2 separate regions of the Homo sapiens genome follow, and region 2 is linked to region 1. Evidence: fine-mapped expression QTL. A gene starts in region 1. The other region holds a variant in brackets. All regions are shown on one strand. Distances are between the middles of the regions.

Region 1 (5,377 bases):
GAGAATGTAAACGGGTAGCGTCTTTTTAAAGGCCAGGTTGAGGCCCGGCTCTGTGACTCACCCCTGTAATCCCAGCACTTTGGGAGGCTGAGGTGAGTGGATCGCTTGAGCTCAGGACTTAGAGAACAGCCTGGGCAACAAGGCAAAATCCTGTCTCTACAAAAAATACAAAAATTAGCCAGGCATGGTGTTGTGTGCTTGCAGTTCCAGCTACTCAGGAGGCTGAAGTGGGAGGACTGCTGGAGCCCTAGAGGTGGAGGTTGCAGTGAGCCAAGATCTCTCGTGCCACTGCACTCCAGCCTGAAGGACAGAATGTAAACCTGCCTCCAATAAATAAATAAATAACAGGTTGGCAGCATCTGTATTTACAGTATGCCTACCCTTTGTTATGACAATTCCACTTTTAGGAATCTATACTATTCAAATATGAGGATACGAGGATGTCAATGGATCATTTTAACAGTGAGAAAATATTAATAATATCTAGCATTGATTGAGGGCCAGCACATTTCTAAGCACTTTATAACAAATATTGTGAGGACCCCGAGACACAGAGGAGTTAGGTAACTTGCTCAGGGTCACATGGCAAGTGTGTGTTTGGGGCAGGATTTTGGCAATTGTTTCTTAACCACTATGCTCTCGAATAGAGAATAATTACAGTGTGGCACATCCAAACTGGGGAGTAGAGGACAGCAGGTAAGCGGAATGAAGCAGATCTCTGCCTATAGACATGGACACGCCTCTAGGACATATTAGTAATGAAGGGAAAAAACCAAGTTGCCAAACACCATGATATGGTATAATTTCATGTCTGTGGGGAAAAGGTAACATGTATCTATAATACATATGTATGAGAATGGCCAAAGGCCTTGAGTGATATAAGAATGTATGTGGAAATATAGTCAGAACAGTAAATTTTAGATTATGTTCCATATATTTCTGGTTCGTTTGAACTTTTACAAGAATGCATTTGTGCATTACTTTTGAAAACAAGAATTGTTGTACTAACCTCCTCCTTACCCTTACCCCATCCTGCAAAAAGGTTTAACTCATATCAACAGATTCATTTTCTCTTCTTCCAGGTAGACAATGGGATAGGTCTTGGGTAAAAATCTTCTGTACCATGGCTTTTTCTGGTCTATATAAATAAGTATATGTAGAACATGCCCAGGATATATATCTTGTTGATCACTACTCTTAAAATAAGGTTTTCATGTTCGGTATTTGGACCATGGCTTCCTGTTATTCCACCAAGCTACATACAAATATACAACCAGTCAAAATTAATTTGGAAACTGAGAACCACAGTGTTTTTTTTTTTTTTTTTTTGAGACAATCTCACTCTGTTGCCCAGGCTGGAGTGCAGCGGTGTGATCACAGCTCACTGCAGCCTTGGCCTCCTGGGCTCAATGGAGGAGGCCTCCAACTCAGCCTCAGGGGGAGCTGGGACTACAGGCACAGGCCACCACGCCCCGCTAGACAGAGTGCTCCTTTTGCCTTGCATATTATTTTGTCATCAGAAAAATAATCCATAATCATAGATTATCTCATTATTTTGCTCCAATGCATAAGTGGGAGTGTCTAGCTCCCTCTGTTCTCCTGGTGGCCTCTGTGGAGGTCTGAATGAGTAGCTCAATACACAGACTTAAAGGACTCTCTGGATGTGAAGTCAGTGTTACTATCTGAAAGGGAAAAGCTGCATTGGATGGATCATCGGGGCCTCTTCCTGCATGAGTCCAGCTAGGGGTGGTTTTAACTAACCTAAAACCAAAGAAGAGGCTCCAACTAATCCAATGGTTTGGATCAAAATGCAACTTTTACAGGGCTGGGGCTTCACCCTATCTTCGGGTTTATCTCTGACATGCCAGGGAGACAGTTCTTAACATTCTTATTACTTAATGGATATCAGATTGTTGCTTTTCGGAGTGGTTTTTCCATTTTTTGAAATTTAATTTGTTCTTAAGTATCTTTACAGAAAAAAATCCCATTTATTTAAGAAGTACTGTATTCTCTGGTTCTTATAGCTGCTCATTTTACATAGTTTTAGTGTGTACAAACGATTTTTTTTGTTTCATTTATTTCTAATATACCTTCTCATGTACTTGCCAAAATTTCATGTTTGACACAGTCTGCATACCTGCCAGGATTCTTGCTGTTAATGTGAAGGCGCCTGTTTGGGTTACTCAATTGTTGGACAACTGGGCCCATTCCCAGGTTTTGGTCATCACGAACATTGTGAATAGCCCTGCTGTTAACATCTTTCTGCAAGTTCTCCCCCTTCTTCGCCCTTTGGATCATTTCCTTGGAAATGTACTTCCTTAAATGGGTTTACTGGGTCAAAGGGGCTCTATGAACGGTTTTATAGCTCTTGGCACATAATTTTCGGATTGCGCCCTGGGCGGATCTAAGCGATGGCACCGGCCGCCGAGAGGGCAGGAATGCGGCGGAACGGTCCCGATAACCACCCCTCTTCCGCCCCCCAAAAGGAGAAGACCCCGCGAAGGCCTGCGGCTGGAAAGCCTTTTTCCGGTGCTCTCCCGTTCTCTTGAAGTGGTTAGTGTCTAAGCCGGGCAGAAACGCTTTCAGGATCCCAGGCCCTCCTGCCCCAGGACTAGGATTCCACCCGCCTCCGCTAATTCGGAATCCCAGACACCCAGGGCCCCCTCTCAGGCTCGCCTCGAAACCCCCGGCCCTGCGGCCCCTCGCGGGCGCCGAGCTCGGTCGCTATTATTTGGGCGCGGGTGAGGCGAGGCCCGCATAGCTGCGCGCTGAGTCAGCGGGGGCCGCGGCGGGGGGCGCGGCCGGGCTCCCCCCCAGCGCACGGTGCGCTGGGCCCGGCGTCTGGGGTTCCGCCTCGGGGCCGCGGGGTAGTCCGCGGGGTCCGGCGGGAGGGGCAGGGGGCGCGCGGAAGGACCCGGCCTGGGTGCGTCTCCCCTCCCCCAGCAGGAGCTCGGCCGTGACCGCGCGCCCGGCTATTCGCCTCAGAGAACCTCGCCAGGGGGAGGAGGCGAGGGCGGGCGAGGAAGGGGCGCAGAGGAGAAAGCGGAGCGGGACAGACGCAGGAAGGGAAAGAAAGGGAGGAAGCGCGGTGCGCGGGGCGGGGCGGGGCGGAGCGCGCGCAGGGCCGGCGGGGACGCGCGCCGGCGGCTGCGGGCGGAGGGGCTTGTGGGTAGCGGCGGCGCGCGGCCGGAGACGGGCGGCCGCGCGGGAGTGTGTGCGCCGGGAGCTGGCTGAGGGACTGCAAGGCGGCCGGCGGCGACCATGGCAGCGGGCCGGCGGCGGCCGTAGTGGCCCAGGCCTGGGCTTCAGCCTCCCGGGGCCCCAGAGGGCGGGGCGGTCCGGGCCGCGGCGGTGGCGGCGCCACTTCCCTGCTCCCGCCCGAGGACTCCTGCGGGCACTCGCTGAGGACCAGCGGACCGGCGGCGCGAATCTGACTGAGGGGCGGGGACGCCGTCTGTTCCCCGCCGCTCCCGGCAGGGCCGGGCCGGGCTGGGCCGGGCTGGGCCGGGCGGGCCCCTGGGAGCAGCCCCCAGGCGGGGGACCGCCTTGGAGACCCGAAGCCGGAGCTAGAGGCAGGCGGTGGGCCCGGGTGGAGTCCCGGCCGGAGCTGGTGGTTCGGGGGCGGTGCTAGGCCCCGAGGCTGCGGGACCTGAGCGCGAGGAGCCTGAGTGCGGGTCCAGCGGTGGCGGCATGAGCCGGCCCCCGCCGACGGGGAAAATGCCCGGCGCCCCCGAGACCGCGCCGGGGGACGGGGCAGGCGCGAGCCGCCAGAGGAAGCTGGAGGCGCTGATCCGAGACCCTCGCTCCCCCATCAACGTGGAGAGCTTGCTGGTAGGTGGCCGGGGCCTGGGAGCTTGCTCGTTGCAGCTCACACCTCAGATCCCCTCTCCGCCCAGCCCTCCGTGCCCGTCCGCCCGTGGGGAGGGGGAGGTCTTGCCCCACCCCGCCCTGCTTCCGGCAGCCGGGGCCGGAGACCAAACGATTCTGTCACCGAGTTCCAAGAGTAGTGACCCGCCTTTGATTCCTCCCTCTACCTCCTGCTGGAGCCAGTGTCATCCCCGGCTGCTCCTTTCTTGCAGCACTGGGAGGAAAACACCCCTCTTCTCCTTCCGCCTGCCCACTCTGGGGAGGTGGGTGGAGGACTGGCCATGCTTCATACACCAGGTTAGCTGATTTGAAAGTGTCATGCTACGTGGGGACTTGGTGCGAGCGAGGGAGAAAGAAACCTGATGCTGTCCCTGTTGCGAGTACTCACTGGGGTACATGACAAAGAGCCGCCCTCACTCTCTCCTTTTAGTCTGAAATCTTGGAACACACAGCTAAAGTTTTGCTGTTTTCACTTGCGTTTGAGCATTCCATACTTGCTATTTAGTGCATTTTAATTGCTGTAAATTTAATTCCCTGAGATTATTGCGCCAGAGCCAAAAAATCAGTCTGAATTGTGGAGTGGAATAAATCTGTCCTCTTCATTGCGTCTCTTTCCTATAACGACCTTTGAAATCCAGATTAATAGCACCGTAAAGGCTGCTAATTGGCTCTTGGTTAAGAAAGGAGCATGTTTTACAAAATAGAAATGCACCGTAGAATGCTGGCTTATTTCTTATTTTTGTTAGGATAGATGATTGTATTTCGCAATTTGAGTAGTGTGCAGTGTAGATGCATTTATGGGAAAAGGGGGTGTGGACTTTTACCCTGGGGAGGGGAAGAAAGGTGAAAACGATACTCTGTGTATTAAATTGACTCTGGAAGACTAGAACTAGGGTGGGAGGTCCTTAGATCCGTTAGACATTCTGTGCTGGAATGCAGATGTTTAGTTCTATTCCCTCCTGGAATAAACCTTACTGTATGATGAGAAAAACTGCCTCCTCCCTTTCCAGGGACGGACGGACTGGCTTTTGGTCAGAGGCGGTTGGTTATCCTTTGAGGTTTCAGGCATCGTTTGCAGAGTGACTCAGTCCTGTTTGGTCAAAATGCAGGAACTGACTTTAGCTATATAGTGTCTTTCTGCACAGTGTACAGAAAGTAATGAATGATGTGCTATATTGTGTCACATGTGTTTGATGTTTTACTGTTTTTCGGGTTAATGTGTTGTTCCTATGTTTTAATGGGAGCAGTCTTTGAAAGTCTTTAATCGGGAGTAAGATTGCTTGCATGGATGGCATAGCTTTTCCTAGGCTAAAGCGGAGACTCTGGGCTGCACTCCCAGCATTTTCACTTTGGTATTTTGCTAGCAAAACTTTGACCTAAGGCCAGAAAGTTTAGTTAAAAATAGTACAGCAAATCTCAAGTATTCATCAGGTTCATGCTAAATCCTAGATGGAAACGTTTTGCAATTCACTTTGATATCTTAGATCTTTAATGATATTAATCATAATTA
Region 2 (5,377 bases), 73 kb after region 1:
GGAGGTGTTCCTTCCTCTTCAGTTTTCTAGAGAAGTATGAGAATGATTGATGTTATTGAAATATTTGGTAGAACTCACCAGTGAAGCCATTAGGTAAAGAGCTTTTCTATGTCAGGAAAGTTTTGGTTACTGAATCAATCTCTTTACTAATTGTAGGTCTATTTATATTTTCTGGTTTTTTGTGTGAGTTAGTCTTGGTAGATTTTGTGTTTCTAGGAATTTGTCTGTTTTATCTAAGTTATTCTATTTGTTAACATAGAATTGGTCAGAGTACTCTCTTAATCATTTTAATTTTCGTAAAGTGGGTAGTAATGTCCCCACTTTTATTTCTGATTTTAATAATTTGAGCATTCTCTGTTTTTTTAATTAGTCCATCTAGCCAGAGGTTTGTGACTCTTTTGGATTGTTTCAAAGAACCAACTTTTGGTTTCATTGATTTTGTTGTTGTTGTTGTTGTTGTTGTGTTCTCTGTTTTATCTTTGCTCTAATCTTTATTATTTCCTTGCTTCTGATGGCTTTGGGTTTAGTTTGTTTTTCTCTTTCTAGTTTCTTAAATTGTAAAGTTTCGTTTTTAATTTCAGATCATTCTCGTTTTTTTAATGTAAGCATTTATAGCTATAAATTTCTCCCATATACTACTTTTGCTGTATTCCGTTAAGTTTTTTGTTGTGTTGTTTTCATTTGTCTCTGGAGTATTTCCTAATTTCCCTTCTGATTTCTTATATGATTCGTTGGTTATTTGTGTGTTGTTTAATTTCCATGTTTTTGTGGATTTTCTCATTGTAGTTATTTTATCGAAGTCTTTTTTTTTTTTTTTGAGATGGAGTCTTGCTCTGTCACCCAGGTTAGAGTGCAGTGGCGCAACCTCGGCTCACTGCCAGCTCCACCTCCCGGGTTCACGCCATTCTCCTGCCTCAGCCTCCTGTCTTTTATCGATTTCTGACTTCATCCCATTGTGGTTGGAAAATATACTTTGTATGTCTATCTTTTTAAATCTTTTGAGACTTAGTCTGTGGCCTGACATATGATCTGTTTTGGAAAATGTCCCATGTGCACTTGAGAATATTATATATGTTATTATGTGTTCTGTATATATCCCTAAGATCTAGTTAGTTTATTGTGTTAAGTCCTCTGTTTCTTTACTGTATTTCCATACTCCATTCTATTAAGTGATAATAGAGAATGAAAGTCTCCAACTATTATTATAGAGCTGTCTATTTCTCCCTCAGTTCTGTTTTTGCATCATATATTTTGATGGTCTGTTACTAGGTCTATAAATGTTTGTAATTGCTGTGTCTTCTTACTGTGTTGAAACTTTTATTAAGATATAATGTTTTTTTTTGTTTCCTGTAACCTTTATTGATTTAAAGTGTATTTGGTCTGATATTAGTATAGCCACTTCTGCTCTCTTTTGGTTACTATTTCCATCCTTCCACTATCAATCAGTTTGTGTCTTTGGATCTAAAGTGATTATCTTATGGACAATGCATAGATGGATCTTTTTTTTAATTCATTCTGCCAATCTCTGTCTTTTGATTGGAGAGTTTAACTCACTTACATTGAATGTCATTACTGGGAAGAAGAATTTATTTCTGTTATTTTGCTATTTGTTTTCTATATGTTGTAAAGCTTTTTTTTTTTTTTTTTTTTTGACCCTTATTTCCTGCATTTCTCTTGGCTTTTGTGTTCAGTTCATTTTCTTATAGTGGTATGTTTACATTCTTTCTCAATTTGTTTAGTATGTATTCTGTTTTCTTTGTAGATACCATAGGCATTACATTTAACATCCTAAACTTATAAAAATTCAGATGTCAATTTATACCAGCTTAGCTTCAAGAATATACAGTAACTCTTGCTCTTTTTTTTTTTTTTTTTTGAGACAGAGTCTTGCTCTGTCGCCCAGGCTGGAGTGCAGTGGCACCATCTTGGCTCACTGTAACCTCTGTCTCCCGTGTTCAAGTGATTTCCCTGCCTCAGCCTCCCGAGTAGCTGGGGTTACAGGTGCCCATCACCGTGCCTGGCTAATTTTGGTATTTTTAGTGGAGACCATGTTGGCAAGGCTGGTCTCAAACTCCTGACCTCAAATGATCCACCTGCCTCGGCCTCCCAAAGTGCTAGGGTTATAGGCGTGAACCACTGCAGCCGGCCAGCTCTGCTTCTTTAACAGCTCTGCCCTCACCCTTTCCAGTTGCTGTCACAGAATTACCTCCTTATTCATTATGTGCCCCAAACCATAAACTAATCACTTTAAATGCATCAATTTTTTATATAGAACAAAATGGGTTTATGAAACAAAGTTTCAATAATACTAGCTTTTAGATTAATAATTTAAAAATATGTATTGGCCTTTTAAATCATGTAGAAAGCAAAAAGTGCAATTATAATCCATTATTACAGTAATACTGGACTTTATAATTGTGTGTGTATTTACCTTTATTGAGATTTTTATTTCTTCACATGACTTCAACTTACTGTTTAAACAGTGTGTTTTCATTTCACCCTGTAGGACTTCATTGACCATTTCTTGCAGGTCAGGTCTACTGGTAACAAGCTCCCTTAATTTTTGTTTATCTGTTAATGTCTTAACTTTCCTGTCAGTTTAGGGAAAACACAACAACCAAAAAACCCAGTCAAACAATAACAAAGCTTTGTCACTTTCCAAGGCAGTCCTTTCCTCAGATCTGCTCCAAATGAACCTTTCAATTCTACTTTTTTTTTTTTTTTTTGAGATGGAGTCTCGTTCTGTCTCCCAGGCTGGAGTGCAGTGGTGTGATCTCTGCTCACTGCAAGCTCCGCCTGTCGGGTTCACGCCATTCTCCTGCCTCAGCCTCCCGAGTAGCTGGGACTACAGGTGCCCGCCACCACGCCCGGCTAATTTTTTTAGTAGAGACGGGGTTTCACCGTGTTAGCCAGGATGGTCTCGATCTCCTGACCTTGTGATCCGCCCGCCTCTGCCTCCCAAAGTGC[T/C]GGGATTACAGGCGTGAGCCACCGCGCCCAGCCCCGAACCTTTCAGTCCTTTCAACCTCAGATGGCATTGTTTCAAGTTCCCAGAGCACCATACCCCTTGAGTATATCCTATCAATATGCCCTTTAAAACAGGGCAACAGGTTTCTGGTTGCACAAGTAAGGAGCTTGGAAATCACCATCCATCCTAACAACAAATAAAATGCTGAAGAGACTGAAAAACCAACAGTGCTTCCGGGATCCAAAAGACAGGTGAGGACACCAAACAAACCACTGACCCCAAACTAGAGAGACAAACAAATAGCCATGGCTATAAGATCCAGGATTCATAAGCAGAAATTGCCACGAGAACCAGTGCTGAGGTAGGAAAACCTGAGCTGTAACTGACAAATTGCTGGGGGCTAAGTGGTGGTCAAGTCAGACAATTAAAAACTTGCAGGGGACCCAGTTATAGGTGAGCCCCCACACCTTTACAGATTTTATATCCAAGAGCTCAACCAGAGTCTCACAGTGAATATTGGAGAAAAATCTCCTCATGCTTCCAAGAAGATTAAAGGGAAAGGAACATTTTGAAATATGCCACAGCATTTGCTTCTTAACAAGGCCTGCCCTCCAGATGTAACCAGAGCATAATGGAACTTGGGGAAGGTTAATACACAACTCCAGCCCACACTAGCCATCCTATGACTCAGAAGCACATTTAAAGTTCACAGTATAGAGGCATAAGGATTCGCTGAGACCTAATCATAAGACTATAGAACACTGCCCACAAGATTGTAGAACCTAAAACTATAGGAAACATTGCCTCACTCTACACCTTATATTACTAAAGACCTATTTACAGAAGTTCCTTTTACTCAATGCATCATGTCCCGCTATCAAGGAAAAATTACAAAGCATACTAAAAGGCAGGAAAAAAGATTTTGAAGAGACAGTAAGCATTAGAAGCAAACATGGTAGGAACACTAAAATTATCAAACCAGCAATTTAAAAGAACTTTGATTAATATGCTAATGGATAAAATAGCATGCATGAATAGAGTGGTGATGTGAGTAGAGAGATAGAAATCCTAAGGAACAAGTGAAAATAAATTCTAGAGATCAAAAACACTTTTAACAGAAATGAAAAGTGCCTTTGATAGACTTATTGCTAGACTGAACAAGGTTGATAAAATATCTCTAAGTTTCAGGATATATCAATAGGTACACCCAAAACTGAAAGCATGTAGAGGGAAGACTGAAAACATCAGAACAGAATTATCACAGAACCATGGAACCACTAGAAAAGGTGTAAAATATGTGTAATGGGAATACAAGAAGAAGAAAAAAACAACAGAAGAAACATTTGAAATAATAGTGAAAATTTTACCCAAATTAATGTCAGACACCAAACCACAGATCCAGAAAGCCCAAAGAACAGAAAGCAGAATAAATGTCTTAAACGTTAGATTTAGGAATATCATTTTCAAACTATAGAAAACCAAGCATAAGAAAAAGCCTGAAAGCCAAGAGAAGAAAAAGCCTAACAAACCACACTTTACCTATACAGGAACAAAGATAAGAATTTTATCTGACTTCTCCTCAGAAACCATGCAAGCAAAAAGAGTGGAATAAAATTTTTAAAGTATTGAGAATAAAAAAGAAAGCAAAATTGCGAATAAAAAAGAAAGCAAAATTACCAATCTAGAATTCTGCACTTTAGGAAATTATCCTTCAAAAGTGATGGGGTGGCTGGGTGCAGTAGCTCATACGTGTAATCCTGGCACTTTGGGAGGCCAAGGTGGAAGGATTGCTTGAGGCCAGGAGTTTGAGACCGGCCTGGGCAACATAGTGAGACCCCATCTCTACGAGAAAATTAAAAATAATTAGCCATATGTGGTGGCATGTGCCTGTAGTCCCAGCTACTCTGGAGGCTGAAGTGGCAGGATTGCTTGAGCCTGGGAGGTCAAGGCTCCTGTGAGCCATGATCATACCACTTTACTCCAGCCTGGGTGACAGAGCAAGACCCCATCTCTTAATGAAAAAGCACACAAACACAAATGATGGGGAGAGAGAGGATTCTGAAAAGAGAGGGGAGTAACAAGCAAGAGGAATCTCTTTCGTTACCTGGACAACAATCACACCGGCAGAATATGTCTTATATCCGAAGAAACAGGAAAATGTATATAGGCCATTCAAAGAAAACAAAAACAAATCAAAAGAAACCGTCCTTGAAAAAGACCTGATGGCCAATATGGCCGATCCATTCAAAAAAGATTTTTTTTTTTTTTTTGAGATGGAGTCTTGCTCTGTCACCCACGCTGCAGTGCAGTCGTGCAGTCTTGGCTCACTGCAACCTCCACCTCCCGGTTCAAGAGAGTCTCGTGCCTCAGCCTCCTGAGTAGCTAGTATTACAGGCGCCTGTCACCACACCT

The links. PIP is the estimated chance that this variant, and not a neighbour inherited with it, causes the effect. A credible set is the group of variants that fine-mapping cannot tell apart.
Region 2: its variant is the best candidate, but not a certain one, in a credible set for the expression of ROCK2 in neutrophils (BLUEPRINT, PIP 0.72).

Annotation. Positions count from the first base shown.
Region 1 is chr2:11,342,450-11,347,826 of GRCh38, reverse strand. ROCK2 (Rho associated coiled-coil containing protein kinase 2) reads left to right here and starts at 3,191. Exons shown (of 33, transcript NM_004850.5): 1 at 3,191-3,831. The coding sequence starts at 3,691. LOC124907733 (a long non-coding RNA gene) reads right to left here and starts at 2,315. Exons shown (of 2, transcript XR_007086216.1): 1 at 2,138-2,315. RefSeq lists silencers at 2,707-2,866, 2,937-3,006, 3,147-3,876.
Region 2 is chr2:11,269,369-11,274,745 of GRCh38, reverse strand. All of the region lies in intron 3 of ROCK2 (Rho associated coiled-coil containing protein kinase 2), which reads left to right. Among named protein-coding and RNA genes, the nearest start is that of ROCK2, 73 kb to the left of the region's middle. The variant T/C (reference allele first, on the strand shown) is at 2,968.